Regions from separate parts of the Homo sapiens genome. Here region 2 is linked to region 1. The links come from fine-mapping of genetic effects on gene expression. A gene starts in region 1. The other region holds a variant in brackets. All regions are shown on one strand. Distances are from middle to middle. Region 1 holds the start of UBA5 (ubiquitin like modifier activating enzyme 5). Region 2 overlaps NPHP3 (nephrocystin 3).

What was found. PIP is the estimated chance that this variant, and not a neighbour inherited with it, causes the effect. A credible set is the group of variants that fine-mapping cannot tell apart.
Region 2: its variant is the best candidate, but not a certain one, in a credible set for the expression of UBA5 in skeletal muscle (GTEx, PIP 0.62).

The regions. Positions count from the first base shown.
Region 1 is chr3:132,657,874-132,662,221 of GRCh38, reverse strand. It overlaps UBA5 (ubiquitin like modifier activating enzyme 5), which reads right to left and starts at 1,893. Exons shown (of 12, transcript NM_024818.6): 1 at 1,524-1,893. The coding sequence starts at 1,684. It overlaps ACAD11 (acyl-CoA dehydrogenase family member 11), which reads left to right and starts at 2,413. Exons shown (of 20, transcript NM_032169.5): 1 at 2,413-2,619. The coding sequence starts at 2,471. The region is part of intron 26 of NPHP3-ACAD11 (NPHP3-ACAD11 readthrough (NMD candidate)); the gene reads left to right. RefSeq lists enhancers at 1,298-1,577, 1,948-2,037, 1,573-2,111.
Region 2 is chr3:132,681,190-132,685,579 of GRCh38, reverse strand. NPHP3 (nephrocystin 3) reads left to right here. Exons shown (of 27, transcript NM_153240.5): 24 at 786-1,026; 25 at 2,056-2,181; 26 at 2,762-2,877; 27 at 3,490-4,390. The coding sequence ends at 3,670. NPHP3-ACAD11 (NPHP3-ACAD11 readthrough (NMD candidate)) reads left to right here. Exons shown (of 45, transcript NR_037804.1): 23 at 786-1,026; 24 at 2,056-2,181; 25 at 2,762-2,877; 26 at 3,490-3,666. Among named protein-coding and RNA genes, the nearest start is that of UBA5, 23 kb to the right of the region's middle. The variant TA/A (reference allele first, on the strand shown) is at 1,647.

The DNA.
Region 1 (4,348 bases):
TGCCATCTCCTGTATAGCAATTTTAATAAAGTCAATGGTGCAAATCAGATAGAAAATACTACATATTTAGACTTGAGTTCTGAAAGTTTTGTTATAATTACAATGTCAAGGGATCATCTCATATTAAATAATGTCTGAAAGACAACTTAAATTCATGACCCATATTCCTCTGCTTTTCATTCTGGAGGGAAAATTTCAAAGTCTTCATTTGTAAAATTTTAAAATGTTTTAAAAATGTCAAATAGTTTCCACTTATTCTGATTAGAGATGTCAGTTCATGCTTATTTAATCTCTAAAAATTCTGGACCATTAACCGTTCATATTTGGCAACACAGTTAAAACAGTGCACCCTAAGACTTCTACTGCGGCTTTATATATCACAAACTAAAACCTTTTTTAAAAATCAAAACTGTTATGCTCTTTAAAGGAAAAAAGCAACAATAAAATCTTCCTTATCTACTTTAACACTATACAATTTTTAGCTACACGACTTAATTGTTTTTACTGGGGAGACGGTTCATGAGAATTTTACATTAAGACAAATCTAATGCAAGACAGGCCTTATTATTTACTACCAAGGCATGAACCTGAGGTGGCTCTCTAAGCCTCAATTTTCTCACTTATATAATGGGGGTAAAATAGTAGCAATCTCATAGGGTTTTGGTGGGAGGAGACAATGCATGTAAAGTGCTTACACAGTGAAAGCTCAATAACTGCTTGCTACTAAATGCACCTAGCAATAAAATCTTGTATAAGGCTTGCCATGTACAAGCGCTACTCTAAGACCTTTATACATACTGATTTTTTCAATCCCCACAACTATGACAGAGATAGATATTACTATTATCTTCATTGTACAGGTGAGAAGCTGAAGCGGAAAGTTTCACAACTTGCCAAAGGTTAGGCAGTTACGAAGAGAGTAGTTAGATTTGAATTGCAATCAGTCTGGCGGTAGAGTCCTTACCCTTAACCATTGCACTATATTCCATCTGCTGAATTGATAAGCTTTGTTAGGAAAGAAGAAAAGAGAGGCCTGGGCAGTCTTGGTAATGTCGAATGGTTTGAGATGTTAAGGAGCACCCGAATATCTCAGAATAGAGCTAACCCCGCTCTCCCCCGCCCCGACCCCATTTAAGATGCATTGATAAGCCTTTAATGAAACTCAAAGTTTACCTTAGCAGGTTTAATATTTGATCTCATCTTCTGAAAGTTCTTACTATCAGTCTTATACACAGCGAGGCGGACTAATTAAGAGGCAAGGGTGATAGGAAACTGGACACACGTCCTCAGCAGGCACAGGAGCAGCACCATATGGCTGACTCACTGGAGGTTTTTAAAAAAGAGAAAGAATATCTTCCGATCAGTACTAAGATGTGGCCTTGCCCATTTGGGAACAGGATTCGCAGACCAAGAAAAGGGTGGCGGGCGTCCCCATGAGCGGGACGTGGGAAGCGCCTCACTTCTGACCTCACGGAGCCTGACCTCGTCCCCCGCGCCTGCCTCCGACCGGCGACGCAGGTTACCTGTAGGGATTCGAATCCACCACCTCTGAGCTCATCTTCTCGATGCGGACCCGGCCGCCCCCTCCGTCGCCGCTCCTCGGGACCTGCAGACTCCTCTCCTGGGCAAGTTCCCGCTCCAGCTCCTGGACCCGCTGCTGCAGGCGCTCCACAGACTCCGCCATGGCTGGGACTCCGGCCGCCAACGCTCCCAGCCCGGGCCTTCGCCGCCGCCTTCGCCCCACGTTGCTCGGCTGGGCCCGCGAGGGGTACGTGGGGAGGCACCTCGCCGCTGCCTTCCTAGCCCAGAGCCCTGGGGACGTGCACCCAGCGCCTCACAGACAGACACGTCTCCGAGACTCCCACAGGCCTTCCTCGGAGCCGCTTCCGGTGCGTCGCAGACATCGCTCCCCCTCATCAAAAACCTGGCTCTTTCGGCTTCCTTCCTCGCTGGGCCGGCTAAACCCGGCCGCAGCAGCACCGGGGTGATAAGTGTCCAGGGCAGGAGGCCAGCGATGTTGCCTTGCTAACCGGGTATCTAAGAGAAACAGGGTCTTTTTATTCTTAGGCTCGACAGTCTGACGGCCCTTTTTCTGAACGGGACCCTGCAGGTCTTCCGCCTGCTGTTGCATTAAATTTGGGGGTGGAAGAGGCTTCTGCGTTGTTCCTTACCCGCAACGATGACCATGGCTTTGCCTTCTTTAAAATTGAGGCCTCCAACTCTGACGCTGACTGGAGAATTGAAACCCGAACACACATTGGGCTCTTTTGGCACTTGACTAGAGCTAAAACCTCGGGATTCAGCGGGCAAGCGTTGCTCAGCAACGGCGCGTAGGCTGTGTGCGGTTGGCTGGAGCCAGACCCCACCCCGGCCTCGGCCCATGCTCTAGAGGGGACGTTGCCCCAATCCTGAAGGACTTCGGCACTCGAGACCTGTGGATGCCGCGTTGCTGTGGCCTGCGGGGGTGATCATGAAGCCAGGTGCTACTGGCGAGTCCGATTTGGCCGAAGTGCTGCCCCAGCACAAGTTCGACAGCAAGTCCCTGGAGGCCTACCTAAACCAGCACTTGTCTGGCTTTGGGGCCGAACGTGAGGCTACGCTGACCATTGCCCAGTACAGGTATGGATGTCAGCCTTTGCCTCCAGCGGAAAAAAATTTGTACATTGAGTTTTCCTTCCTTTGGCCCTGGGTGGTTTCCTAAGTTTCTCCCACCCTGATTGCTTTTCCTGCAGTCAGTGGACGCACCCTACAGGCATGAGCTGCTATTGCCGGCCCTCCGAATTCGATGCTGGGGGCTTCCCAATTGGAGGGCGGTAATGGAAGCGCAATAACGTTCACCATTCTACTATCCAAAGGAATCTTTGTTAAAGGATGGATTTATGTCCCTTGAGGATTCACCAAGGCAATTAAGGCTACAAATTCTGAGAAATAGATGCCTTCTTTTGTGATACAGCCATTAGATCTTTTTCTGAGAAGCTGGTGTAATTCCGTTTGATTGGCCGTATTCCGGGAGGCTGAGTTAATGACACCAGATGGAGGATCCGAATTCGAGTACTAGCTTTTCCACTTAGGAGGTCACAGCACCACTTTGGGCCTCAGGTTTTTTGAAGTGAGGTAATGGAACTGAGTGAGAGGATCCTGAGAGTAGCGTTCCCCACCGGGAATCTGGCTTTAGTCTGATGTTTTACAATAGATAATACATTCTTAAAACTTTATTCTAAAAATAACATTGTTACTAATACAGGGCTACAGAAAGAGTCCTATCATTCAGAAAACTGGATCTGTCACTTGCTGTCTGGGAGTTTAAATATGTTACATAAACACTCTGAGAACTAGTTTCCTAAGTTGTAATACCTATTTTGATTAGTCTTATTAATGAAATGAAATACCGTAATATAGGTGAAAGGGCGTAAAAATTGCAACAACATAGTGTGCTAGTGGTATTTTATCACTAGCATTTATATTCTTTGACTACTGATTTTGGTGAAAATGAAAATAATAATAAATGAGATGGATCAGGGAACATTTTAGGGTGTAGAATTTAAAGGTCCCATGTCCCAATAGATATTGGAAGATGAAGGGAAAGGTGGAATAAAGAATAGCTGAGATTTCTAGGCTAGAAGCCTTGTGTTGTAACAAACTGAAACAGATCAAAGTTCAAATTTCAACTATTTCAATTGCTGTGGAATTTGGACAAGTTACCCTTTGAACATCTAGTCCTGCTTTGGCAAAAAGGAGATAGTAACGTTCATATTGTAGGAGTGTTGAAGAGGTACATAACTGAAAGATACTTAATTCTGAACCAAGCTGAATGTTAAACCATAACCGTGTTCAAAAAATGAAATTAGTTGTAAATTAGTTGTGGTATAAAAATTGCTTCCAGAAATGTTGTATAAGCTTGGTTTAATAAATATATATGGAACTCTGGATCCCACAGAGAACACACATTCATTTCTAGGACACATGAAAAAGTTTATAAAAATTGAAAACACATAGGCCATGAAGGAAGTCTCAGAAACTCAAAAGAATCAATCTTTATATTTTGAAAATGTGTGTTTTGGCCAGGTGCAGTGACTCACACTTGTAATCCCAGCACTTTGGGAGGCCGAGGCACGTGGATCACTTGAGGTCAGGAGTTCAAGACCAGCCTGGCCAACATGGTGAAACCCCCATCTCTACTAAAGATACAAAAATTAGCCGGGCGTGGTGGCACGTGCCTGTAGTCCCAGCTACTTGGGATGCTGAGGCAGGAGAATCGCTTGAACCAGGAGAGGGAGGTTGCAGTGAGCCAAGATTGCACCACCATGCTCCAGCCTAGGTGACAGAGTGAGACTCAAAAAAAAAAAAA
Region 2 (4,390 bases), 23 kb before region 1:
TATATTTATATGTTATAAAAAGTATTTTTGGACTTCATATATCAGAAAAATATAACAAATTTGAAACTTTGGATGTCAGAAAAGTATAATAAATCTGTAGCCCACTTACAGAAACTTATATAAAAAATAATGATTTATTCTTTTGTTAAAAATTATTTAGTACTGGCTGGGCATGATAGCTCATGCCTGTAATCCCAGAGCTTTAGGAGGCTGAGGCATTAGGATCACTTGAAGCCAGGAATTCAAGACCAGCCTGGGCAACATAGTGAGACCCTGTCTCTACAAAAAAAATTAATAAATTAGCCAGACATGGTGGTACACACCTGTAGACCCAGCTACTTGAGAGGCTAAGGTGGGAGGATCACTTGAGCCTAGGAGTTCAAGGTTACACACACGCACACATACAAAAAAACAAAATAAAGAAATAAAAATTATTTAGTACTAACTCCAAAGGGAGGAAGAGTGAATACAAAAATCTTTTATTGGACCTAGGTCTAATAATTTTTAAAGTATAAAAGTTTGTTTTGGAAAATATCTATCAGTTTTTCTTTCAGAAGTGGAGAATTGAGGCAATCATCCACACATTTTAGGCCCTCAAACTGTCAGGAAAAGGGCAGGAAGAGATAGGGGTGGGGAAGAGGGGGAAAGTAAGATTTTGAGCTGAATCTCTTATTTTAACTAGAATCTAAGAATAAAGATGAGTCAGTTCTCCACTTAATTTAGGGGTCAGGATTCCAAACTCTAGAAAATAGATAGTTTAAGCCATTTTGGGATTGTGTTCACAGAACAGCTGACCAGTTTCTGAAGCGTTCCTTAGAAATGAGGGAGCGAGTTCTAGGACCAGATCACCCTGACTGTGCTCAGTCTTTGAATAATCTGGCAGCTCTATGCAATGAAAAGAAACAGTATGATAAAGCAGAAGAACTTTATGAAAGAGCTTTAGATATTCGGAGACGTGCATTAGCTCCTGATCACCCTTCTTTGGCATATACGGTGAAGCATCTTGCCATCTTGTATAAGAAAATGGTAAGTAAGCTTTGACATTCTTACATGTTTTATAACATATCAGTTAAGCCATAACTACTATCAGCAAAATAATTTGTCTTTATGAGGGACAGGTTAGTTTATATGAGCTTTAAAAATCATGATTTAACTTTTAACAAGTAACTGAGCAGAACATTTAAAAATAATTATTTTATACTGAACTGGTTACATTGATTCTTGATTCTGAAATAATATACTAGTAAATTAATATGCTGGGTTTGTTTTGTTAAATACATTCCAAGTACAAATGCATTTATTAGCATTCTAATTCAAACTTATTTTACATTTCAGAAGTTCTAAAATTCCACCAATATTAAGTTTGCTGTGTAAAGCAACATAAACATAAGAAATCAGGAGATGTCTTTGTAGTTGATTAAATGAACATTTTTATTTCGTTCTTTCTTGGCTTTGCCTGTAATTAAATGTAACCATTGTTTGCCATAGGGTTCTATACTGAGTGATATTTGGGATTTTTATAGCTGTTCTCAAAAAAGAAAAAATTCCAGGGAAGCCTGCTTTCATTTAGCATAGTTACAGAGCTTTGTAGACTGTCTTTAGACTTTGTGGGTCCATTACTGGTCATCCTGACACCAAAGTTGTTT[TA/A]GTAAGAAGGGTACATTGCTGCTATTTCTGCCCAACTTTCAGGTGAAGTGAAGTAGTTAGAAAAATCTGGAAGGGATTTGGCAAGAAATGAGCTTTTTATTTTGATGCAGTCTCCAAATTATGTGCAATAGTAAATCTACTTCAGCTGATATGTTTTTACTACACTAGAAACAGTAATAGTGGATGATCCTAAAGGGTTTTCTGAATTATCAAAAATGCTTTTCTATACAGTGTAGCTTTAAATTTTCAGTTATCTATAAACTTAATCATTAAGCTGATAGGAAATGCTTCTGAGATTTTTTTCCCTCAAAATTACCCTTTAATATGAAATTTTACTTATGGAAAAAGCTCTGATAAGATAGTATTTATTGCCTTATATTTTTGTTAGATTTAACTCTTGTTTTTTAGGGGAAACTTGACAAAGCTGTACCTTTGTATGAATTGGCTGTTGAAATTCGACAGAAATCTTTTGGCCCAAAGCACCCTAGTGTAGCTACTGCCTTGGTGAACTTAGCTGTTCTTTATAGCCAAATGGTAAGTTCCCATATTTTAACGTTGTATCAGTGAATGATTTTATGGTATAAAACATAGGTAAACATGAATTAGATAGGGAACACTAAATAGAATGAAAGACAATTTAAGGATATTTCTAATACTTCCTTTAGTACTTGAGAAACTATTGAAGTTAGACTTGTATGAAGGTCCCTTCCTCTTAGTGTAAAACACTGTTAGTTCAGAGCATAGGCTTAGTTTCTAAAATTCTGGAGATACCCTACATCCCTCCATATAATATTTATTTAAGTATTTAAGCCTGTGGCATTTGATTATGATGGGTGAGAATCAGGTGGGGGAGCCATTGGGCAATAAAGGAACAGGTTTGTGCTTACAGTATTGGATTATGGTCAAATGGTTACCAAGCCAGGTCTAAATCTTAAGTATCTGACTTTCTATTATACTGCTTCTCCTATGATTATTCATAAGTTAATCTGTTTATTCCCATCTTTTAGGAGGATATTAACATTTTAAAGTACTAATCAAAGTAGGTTAGCTTAGTCTAGAATACATTAATTTCAGAAACCCAGTGTGCATGAGCATTATCATTTTTTTTAATAAGAAAAAACACGTTGAAGCTTTGCCATTATATGAAAGAGCATTAAAGATTTATGAAGATAGCCTGGGTCGGATGCATCCTCGAGTTGGAGAAACACTGAAAAATTTAGCTGTGCTTAGGTAAGAATTTTTTTCACTTTCCTTATACAGCCTCTTTTATTCGAAGTAGCTTTGTCTTAGAATAGCACAAAATATGTATTACTGAATGTTTTTTCTTAGAGTGGGGAGGGGTTGTTTTTTGCTGACTGACTTCAAGAAGTACTGAAGTAGTATCCAGAAATGAAATGAAGCCTGCATGATCTATTTTGCAGAGGAGCATATGTATGCATCATGGCAAACAGTGAAGGATGGTTTATACTACATCTGGCTCTGGGAGTAATATGGGTAATTTGCTGTCCCCAGAGTGAAGTTGCCATTAAGTATATGTTGACTTTTGCTTGCTCATTTGTATTTTTCTCAGGATGCAGAGAATACCTAACTTTGCTTAGCAATTTCACTGCCTCTATTACAACATGGTTTTAATGATATCCATATGAGACACAAAAATACTGATACTGGTAGAAAGGAGAAGAGTTTGGGTGTTGTTTTACTGGTCTGCTTGAGTGAATACACTGGAAAAAGAGGGGAAATGGGCAAATATTTACAGCTTCTTTTTCTGTATCCCATAAGGTCATTTTGAATTGGTAAGAGGTTATATTCTCATTTTAAGAGTTTTTGTTTTCTCTCTCAAAGCTATGAAGGAGGAGATTTTGAAAAAGCTGCTGAATTATACAAAAGGGCAATGGAAATAAAAGAAGCAGAAACATCACTCTTGGGTGGAAAAGCTCCTTCACGCCATTCATCAAGTGGAGACACGTTTAGCTTAAAAACAGCTCATTCTCCTAATGTTTTCCTTCAGCAAGGACAAAGGTAATAGCAGCAGTTAGAATTCTTTGCAAATGTACCTTAAGACAAAATAATTAAACATTTGGAACATTTGAATTTGAAACTTTAAAAAAATGTTGTACGAAATTTTACTACGTGTGATTTAACTGCTATTTGTATGAAGTTGTATTGGATTACATTAAGTTGGAATTGTGATTATGTCTGTTTTAGTTGTTTAAAAGAATTTTCCTATTATATGGTATCCAAGGATGTAGACACATTAGAATTATAAGAAGACATGAGGAGCAAATCATGAAGAGCGGATTGGTCTTTGTTCAACAAGAGCTGGCAGAGTAGTTAAGACAAGGAGTTCAAAAATTCCATGAATCTTGGCCAGGCATGGTGGCTCATGCCTGTAATCCCACCACTTTGGGAGGGTGATGCAGGAGGATCACTTGAGGCCAGGAGTTGGAGACCAGCCTGGCCAACATGGTGAAACCCTGTCTCTACTAAAAATACAAAAAAAAATTAGCTGGACCTGGTGGCGCATGCCTGTAATCCTAGCTACTCAGGAGGCTGAGGCATGAGAATCGCTTGAACTCAGCAAGTGGAGGTTGCTATGAGCTGAGATTGTGCCAGTTCATTCCACCCTGGGCAACAGGGTGAGACTCTGTCTCAAAAAAAAAAAAAAAAAAAAAAAGAATTCCATGATTCTTTTGAGCTCTCAAGAGCTACTTTAGCCTTGCCATTCCTCTTGCTTTTCAGCAGT